Homo sapiens: one gene and its partner. The protein of the gene in region 1 purifies or fractionates together with the protein of each later gene. This does not show direct contact. Each region holds a gene or a part of one and is shown on either strand. Other genes may lie near its edges.

Evidence for each region.
Region 2: the proteins of TBC1D10A (region 1) and CIB2 purify together in Homo sapiens (co-immunoprecipitation; one large-scale study listed by IntAct). This does not show direct contact.

What each region holds. Positions count from the first base shown.
Region 1 is NC_000022.11:30,323,833-30,328,222, forward strand, and holds the start of TBC1D10A (TBC1 domain family member 10A), read right to left. Parts: upstream 3,110-4,390; 5' UTR 3,050-3,109; coding exon 2,841-3,049; intron 1-2,840.
Region 2 is NC_000015.10:78,110,887-78,114,695, forward strand, and holds part of CIB2 (calcium and integrin-binding family member 2), read right to left. Parts: intron 391-3,809; coding exon 279-390; intron 1-278. UniProt on the Homo sapiens protein: Calcium- and integrin-binding protein that plays a role in intracellular calcium homeostasis. Acts as an auxiliary subunit of the sensory mechanoelectrical transduction (MET) channel in hair cells.

The DNA of each region.
Region 1 (4,390 bases):
GATGGGTGCAATCTCTGCCTCCCAGCTACTCAGGAGGCTGAGACAGGAGAATCACTTGAACCCGGGAGGCAGATGTTGCAGTGAGTTGAGACTGCGCCACTGCACTCCAGCCTGGGTGACAGAGCGAGACTCCGTCTCAAAAAAAAAAGATCCCTTACAGTGCAGTCTATGGTTTTTTTAATCTACTCATGCCATGTAGCTAATAGTCACCTCAGTAAGGTAGCCTGTGACCTGCTTTCTTACCCCCAGGCCTGGCAACTTCCACATCCAAAATGTCTTAAGACAACCTTTGGCCCAGGGTAGCTGAAATGGACCTTTAATCTGGAGTCAGAGTCCCCACCATCTCCACAGTACCCATGAGGGCTAACGTTTCACTTCTCTAGCATAGAACATGGACTCCTAGCCTTCAACCACGAGACTGGGTTCAGGGCGGTCACCCTGAAGCTTTCCATAACTTCCCCTCTATGGCCTTGGGCAGGGACTTACTCTTGGCTTTTTTGAAACCACAATATAAATTAAGTAGGGAACATCGAAGCTTTCAGATACCAGAGATTTTAGGTTGACTGACAGGCTCCAGAAAGTGAGGGAAGGAGAGAGGACTGGAGCTGGGATCCCACCTCAGCCCCAGCCCTACAGACAGCAGCCATGTAGAGGGTGTCTGCAGAGCCACATCCCGGGTTTGTGGTTGTGGGGTAAGAAAGACAGATGTCTGGCTGCCTGGTTGGGGACTACAGCCAAAGGGAGGTGCTTCCACTGGGGCCTCACTCTGCCCACAAATACCAGAGATATGCCCTCATTTTTCTCTTCATTTCTCAGACCCTTAGAAGGAAAGAAAGAAAACTAACATTTTCTGGGCCGCTACTTGTGACAAGCGCTGTGCCAGGCACCTTCACGTATCATATACTCATTTAACCCCCAGAGTAATGTTGGGAAGTGGGTGTTACTGTCGCCCTTTACAGTGAGTAAACAGGCTCAGAGATTCAGGATCTTGCCCAAGGTCACAAAGCTAGCAAGTGTAATTCCTAAGTTTGGCCTTTTCCTAATATATCACATTGCTCTGCACCCCAAGATCTGGTTGATTGCCTGATAAGCATGTAGTAGGAACTCTCATGCCCTAGCATTCTCCCACAAATCTGAGCTCTTCCTTCCAAGGTCCCATAAATGCAACTGGGAACTCCTTTCCTAGATCTCAAGACCACACACCTCCCTGGGTCCTAATCCCAGGTGACTGCTCCTCAATTCAAAACACTCCAGGTCCCCACTAAGTTCTCACAAGTGAATCCCTGGGGAACTGTGACAAAGCATCAGTCAGGGTGAGGGTTCAGAATGAGGGGTGCTCTCTCTGAGTCCTGGACTAAACCTAGCCTGCTGTGAGCCAGTAGGGAGATACTGGAGGAGACAGATCCAGTGGGTGAGAGGGAACTCCCCTTAGGGGAGGGGCCTGGATTTCTCCAAGGAAGAAGGAGGCCTGGTGAATAAGAGGCTTTAGGGCTGGGGAAAATCCCGGAAGTGACAGGGGTTCTTAGACAGTTAAAGCGCTTCCATAAGTCATGAGAGAGTCTGGGGTGACCTTGGACAATCTCAATTGGTCAGAGAAAGGGAGAAAGGATATTCTCTGGAGTAGGGTCATGGCAGGGCCCCAGGAGCTCCTACTGGTGATTGGGATGGAAAGCACACATCAGGAGGGAGTCTTGTCAGTTCTGTGCACAACACTGGTCTCACGTGACAGGACAGCTGGGATGGGAGTGGGGTATGGAGTCCATCTTTCCTAAGGGGACCGCCAGCCTGTACACATGATCTCTGAGGCCTGGGCTCGGGGGATTCTGTGGGGCAACATGGGGCCCAGCTTGGAGGCAAGGTGCTGTTCCACTGCCCCACATTTCTCTGTCTGCTAGCTGGGTGTCTGGGTGCTCTCGGGATAGGACATCGGGGGGTGCTAATATGAGCAGGGACCCTGCTGTCTCCCTGCCTGCCCCCGTCCCACGCCCAAGATCTGCCCTTGGGAGGAGGCGCATACATACACAGGACATACACAGAGCCCATCTACTGGCTCCTGTGGCTGCTGGAGCTGATGGTCTGTCCTAGTGGTGGGGCTCCCTGTCGCCCTGTACGTGCTGGGAAGGGGGAGTACCTGCCCACCTGTTGCCAGTGCCAGTGGAGGAAGCTGTGTATGAGCGGATAGGGGGCCCTTCTCCGACCCTTCCATGAGGAGAAGGGACTGTCTGTCCCAGGATGGAGCTGAGGGGAGGGAGGTGACCAATGTCTGTCCATCCAGAGGTCTGTATGCCTCGAGGAAAGGGTCAGTCTGTCCTGGGAAGGGGTGGGGGCGGGGCAGTCAGTCCTGAAGTCGGTCTGAGGTCTCCTGGTGTGGGGGCAGTGAGGCGGGGAGACAAGGGCGTCTGTGGGTTTGTGGGAGGGGGAAAGATGGAGAATGAGTGTCTATGGAGGGGGGCGCCAGCCATCTGGGAGCCTGTCGGGGTGGCAGAAACAATCATCCCTAAGGTCTTGGCGGCAGGGGTGGGTTTGGGGCAGTCTGTCATTCTGTTCCACGGCTGGAAGGAGGGCACAGTCGGTCCTTCCTGGGAGCGGGTCAGTCTGTCCGGAGGGTGGAGGTGGCGGGTGGAGGTGTGGGCCCGTCCGCCCCCTGGGTCGGAAGTAGGACTGCGAAGGGGGCGGGTCTAGGAAGGCAGGGGTGGTGGGGGTGGGGCAGGGGAGGGAACGGGGATTAGTGGTCCCTGCCTGGGAGGGGGACGTGTCGGCAAGTCCCGAGGGCGCCTCCGTCCGTGTCGAGGCCCCTCGCGTGGGTGGCGCGCTCAGTCCCGACCCCCGGCGCTACTCACGCGCCCTCGGCGCCCTGCGAGCCCACGATGAAGCCGAACTTGTCGATGCGGCGCTCGGCGAAGCCGTTGGCCTCCGAGTCAGACCCGAGAGAGCTGAGTTCGTCGGTGGTTGCGGCGTCGGGGCCCTGGGCCAGGCTCTCCCGGGTTCCCGACAGGCTTTCCCCGGCCGCGGGCGCGCGCGGCCCATTCTCTCCGTTGCTCTTCGCCATCCCAGCCGCGCCCGCCGCCTGAGCTCCAGCGGCCACCTCAGCCGCCCTGCTGCCGCCGACGCCCCGCCCACGCGCGGCGCCTATTGGCCGCCGCAAGGCCGGGGGGCGGGGCTCCAGGCCCACCCCGGAGCTCTCCCCCCACGCCCAATGGGCGCCGCGGACCCCGGGCCCCGCCCACCCTCCCCCGGCGGGCGCCAACAAGCCCGAAGTGAGGGGGCGGGGCAGCCGTCACCGCAGCCCTCCCCGCCCTCCTCCGGGCTGCCAATCACAAGAACTCACCTGGACGAGCTCGGGCCTTTCCGGGTTGGCTCCAAGCGGGGCCTGTCACCTACTGCAGAGCGCGAGCCGGAGGCCCAGGGCTTCCTCCATGGATTCCTCATCTGCCTCCTGAGCCCCGCTCCCTGCGAGACCCCAAGGACGTGGTAGGGATTGTTTGCCCCATTCATTTATGAGGAACTCTGAGGAGGCCCAAGTGAGTTCAGGGACGCAGAGCGGCTTAAAGGCCCAGCCTGAGCCAGAAGTCTGGCAGTCCCATTGCACTCACTGCTTCTGGGGCTTTAAATTACCTCGTGAGACCTAATTATTAATAATCACCAGCGTTTACTGAGCCACGCACGCCCGAAGCTCTACCTACTTTCTCCTGTAGTCTTTTCCCCAGCAGTTTTATGGAACATAAACATACCATAAATTCACGTTTAAAGTGTACAATGATTTTTAGCATATTTACAGAGTTGTGCAGCCATCACAACATTCTAATTTTAGAACATTTTCATCACCCCAAAAAGAAACTCCTACCAATTAGCAGTCACTCCGCATCCTGGCTCCCCCAGTCCCTGGCAACCACTAATCTGCTTCCTGTTTCTATAGATGTCCCTTTTCTGGATATTTCATATAAATGGAATTATACAATATATGGCCTTTTATGTCTGGATTCTTTCTCTTGAACATTTTCAAGTTTCATCCACATTGTAGCATGTATCAGTGCTTCTGGATTCACATCTGCCCCAGGTATGTCTGACTCCACCCCTCCCTTTCCTGGGATAGGCCCACACCGCCATGAAAGACCTATACTGCCCCTCCTGGGAGCTGGGACTATACCAGATTTTGTTTTTCCATTCATCAGTGATGGTCATTCGCGTGTTTCTAGTTTTTAGCCATTATGAATAATGCTGCTCTGACCATTCAGGTACAAGCTTTTGTGTGGGGGCCTTATGTTTACATTTCTCTTGGATAGATAAGGAAGAGTGGAATTGCTGGGTCATATGGCAACTGTTTAACCTTTCGAGGAACTGGCAAACTGTTTTCCAAATTGGTTGCAACATGTCTTGTAATCTCTTAGCA
Region 2 (3,809 bases), on another chromosome or scaffold:
CAGCAGGCTTGGGGCCACTTAACAAAGGGACAAGCAAATGAGCACAAGCCCATGGCCTGCAGTTGGGTGGCCACTGATGTACAGCACCCTTACAGAGCCCACATAGCTTATTTATTCAGAGTACAGATGAGGAAACTGAGGCACAGAGAGGTTCTGTGATCTGCTCAGAGCCACGCAGACACAAAGGGTGGAGCTGGGTTCAGCCTAGACCTGGGGGCCTCTGCTGCTGGTCCAGAGGCACAGATCCCCTGCTCGCCAGCAAGAGGTCCTGCACATACCCGGAGCTCTGGCATCTGGATGATGAGGCTCATGGGCACGTGGACGATGGGGCTCTTCCTGTAGTCCATTGGGACGAGGTTGGGGGCCAGCTCATAGAATCGCGAATGCAGCCTTGGAGGAAAGCAGAGAAAAAGCGCTGGAGGGGGTGCCATCCCTAAGCCCCAGCAGCCCGGTGCTGTCCTGCCTAGGCCTCTGCCTCTGCAGAACATCCTCAGCCAGGACCAGGTAAGGGGCCAATGGGAGGCTCTCTGCTCTGCCCACAGGGTGTGAAGTTGGGAGGGAGGTGAGTTCTGCCCAGACCTCTGTGCTGATAACCAGGTTGTGTCCAGGCCTCCCTATTTCCACCACACCCACCCCATCAGCACCACCACCATCACTCCTTGGGCCTGGGTCCAAATCTTTTAATTTTTTCTCCTTTGGGCTCTCATAAGGGTTTTCTATGCTCAGGATACTGTGCTAAGCACTTAACACATCACCTAATTTAATCCTCCTCCACATCACTGTGCAGACAGATGCATCCTGACCCCAGCTTACTGCTCAGCAAACAGGGCTGAAGAGGTTAAGAGTGATTTGTCTAAGGCCACATAACTAGGGAGCATCAAGGGCCATGGGTTGAGCCCAAGATGGGAAATCCAAGCAGAAACTCTTAGCCACTCTTCCCCCTTACACTCCTGAGGGTCCATCAAAGCCTGGGCCCACTTCGTGGCCCCACCACCCCAACTTAAGCCCTGAGGGTTGGGTCTCTCTGGGAGAGCTCTCAGCAGTCCTCACACCCTCAGGAAGCCCCTATGAATGGGTCACCCATAAACTCTCTAACTGGGGGCCATCGGGACCCAGGCTGCTACCCTGGTGGGCCTGGCCCTCCCTCCTCACTGATGGGTCAGGTCCCTAGCTCCTGTCCCAGCCTCCAGGAAATCAAGCCCACCTCAACAAGCTGCATGGACCCTCAAAGGTGTAAGGCATCCTGGCACTGTCTCACTTGGAAGCTCCCTTCCTCCCCGCCCCCTGCCCATTATTCAGTCTTTCTTTGCCCTATGTCCACTTGTCCAGGTCCCTGTCATCCCAGAGAATAGCCCCCCATCCCAAGACAGGTACAAATTGTATTTAGATGACATTGTGAGCTGCATGTGGTGGCCTATGCCTGTAAACCCAGTGTTTTGGGAGGCTGAGGTGGGAGGACCACTTGAGGCCCAGAGTTTGAGACCAGCCTAGGCAACACAGCAAGACCCTGTCTCTACAAAAATGAAAAAAAAATTAGCTGGATATCGTGGCTCAGTCATAGCTACTTGGGAGGCTGAGGCTGGAGGATCACTTGAGCTTGAGCCCAGGAGTTGGAGGCTGCAGTGAGCTATGATTGCCCCACTGCATTCCAGCCTGGGCAACAGAGCGAGACCCTGCCTCTAAAAACAAAAATTGTGTCCATTAAGTGCTGCCATGGGTGGGACAAGTGTAAGGGGCATTGACTGTGGGCTGAGGTAGGTAACCTGCCTAAAGTGATGTCCTAGGCTGCTGGTGAATGGATTAGGTATGACCCTGTATCTCCCAGGCTTGGGCCGGCCCTGCCACCCCCAAAGCCAGATCAGCCCAGGTCTCCTTTTAAGTGGCTTGACCCTGTGACACACCCCAGGCCCACCTTTATCAAGCCATTCAGCACAGCCACCCAACCTTCCTTGGGTTCTACCAGTTCTTGTGGTCCTGCTGCCTACTGTCCTTAGCAAGGCACCTGACTACTTACCCAGCTCAAACAGATAATAACACCAGCTATCGTTTAGCAAGTGCTTACTCTGTGCCAGGCCCTGAACTAATCTTCTCTGTGGATTGCTTTACTTATTTTAATCCCCAAATCACCCTGAGAGGTAGATATTAGTCTCCCATTTTCAGGTAGGGAAAACTGAGGCTCAAGAATCAAGTGTCTTCCCCATCCTACACAGCCAATGAGCAGTGGGAACAGGACTTGAACCCAGGACCTCTGGACACCAACCACTTGGCTCCTCCCTGCAAGTCAAGCCCTGGTAAGCACATCATCTGCTGGTTCAGAGCCTGTCCAGGGCAAATGAACAGTAAAATGCCACATGCCCACTTTGCCAGTCGCACATTCCTATAAAAGGGTCTGAAATTACAAGGATGTGCCATGACTTGGAGACAGAGCAGGAGGGGAAAACCCCTAAACTTGTACTTTGGGTGGGAGGAGGCTCAGCAAATGCCAGGGCGGTGGGATCAAGCTGAGACTCTCCACAAGAGGGCACTCAAGGACTTTCTTTGCTCCTATTTCTTGCATAGAGGAAAACTACTTTTTTTTTTTTACACTGTCCCCAAATAAGGAACAACCACTTGTTTCAAAATTCATGCATCTTCTTTCTTTCTTTCTTTCTTTTTTTTTTTTGAGACGGAGTCTCGCTCTGTCGCCCAGGCTAGAGTACAGTGGCGCGATCTCGGCTCACTGCAAGCTCCGCCTCCCGGGTTCAGGCCATTCTCCTGCCTCAGCCTCCTGAGTAGCTGGGACTACAGGCGCCTGCCACAATGCCCGGCACATTTTTTGTACTTTTAGTAGAGATGGGGTTTCACCGTGTTAGCCAGGATGGTCTCAATCTCCTGACCTCATGATCCGCCCACCTCGGCCTCCCAAAGTGCTGGGATTACAAGGCATCTTCTTTCATAATTCATGCATCTGGTACTTTGACATATCCATTGTGCTTCCAACTGCTACATTTCCCACTTGACCTTGACCCCACCTCATATGTGGCAGTGTGATGTTGGAGTGTTTCTAGGGGTTGGCCTACACCTCTGAAGTTTTGTGGGATGGCTGCAGCAGGAGCATGAAGTCAGGCTGAGGTTGGAGCCCTGCCTACACCTCTCATTAGCAGTGTGGGTAAGTGGGTTAATCCACTGAAGGATAAGTTTCTCTATCAGTAAAGCAGGGGCTATTCTACTGTTCTCACCCCTGGATGTTCATAAAACCACTGGCCTTCAACTGGCAGCTTTTAGCATGCTGCCTGCCACGTCAGAGGCTCCCTGGAAGGGGTGGACTAGGGAGAGAGGCTATGGGTGCTTGGCAGGGTTGAGGAGGTATCCTCTGGGGTGGGAAGGCCAGCTTCTACCCTGGGACACAGATCTGTTCTAAAACAGTAACTAAAATCACATTGGAATTTTTCTTTAAAGAAAAATCCAAGGAGAATTTGAAAACCCAAATCACTGTGAAAGAAACTCTAAGCATTGTCAAAGAACCACATCTCTGTCACCTCTCCCCCAATAAAGGGCACTGAATTCAAGAAGAGTTATATATTAGTCCTACTGTAACATCCAGGACCAGAAACCATACTTACGCTACTTGAACTGCCCCCGAGTATGAGGCAAGAAATGTGAAAACTCTCACTTTATTTTACAAAGTTAACAAGAACCCTGATACAAGAACCTAATATGTAGCATCCAGAATGGACCAATGGCACTTGCATAGATAGATGAAAAAGTCTTATAAAATAACATACTGGGGGCCAGGCACAGTGGCTCATGACTGTAATCTAAATGTGCTT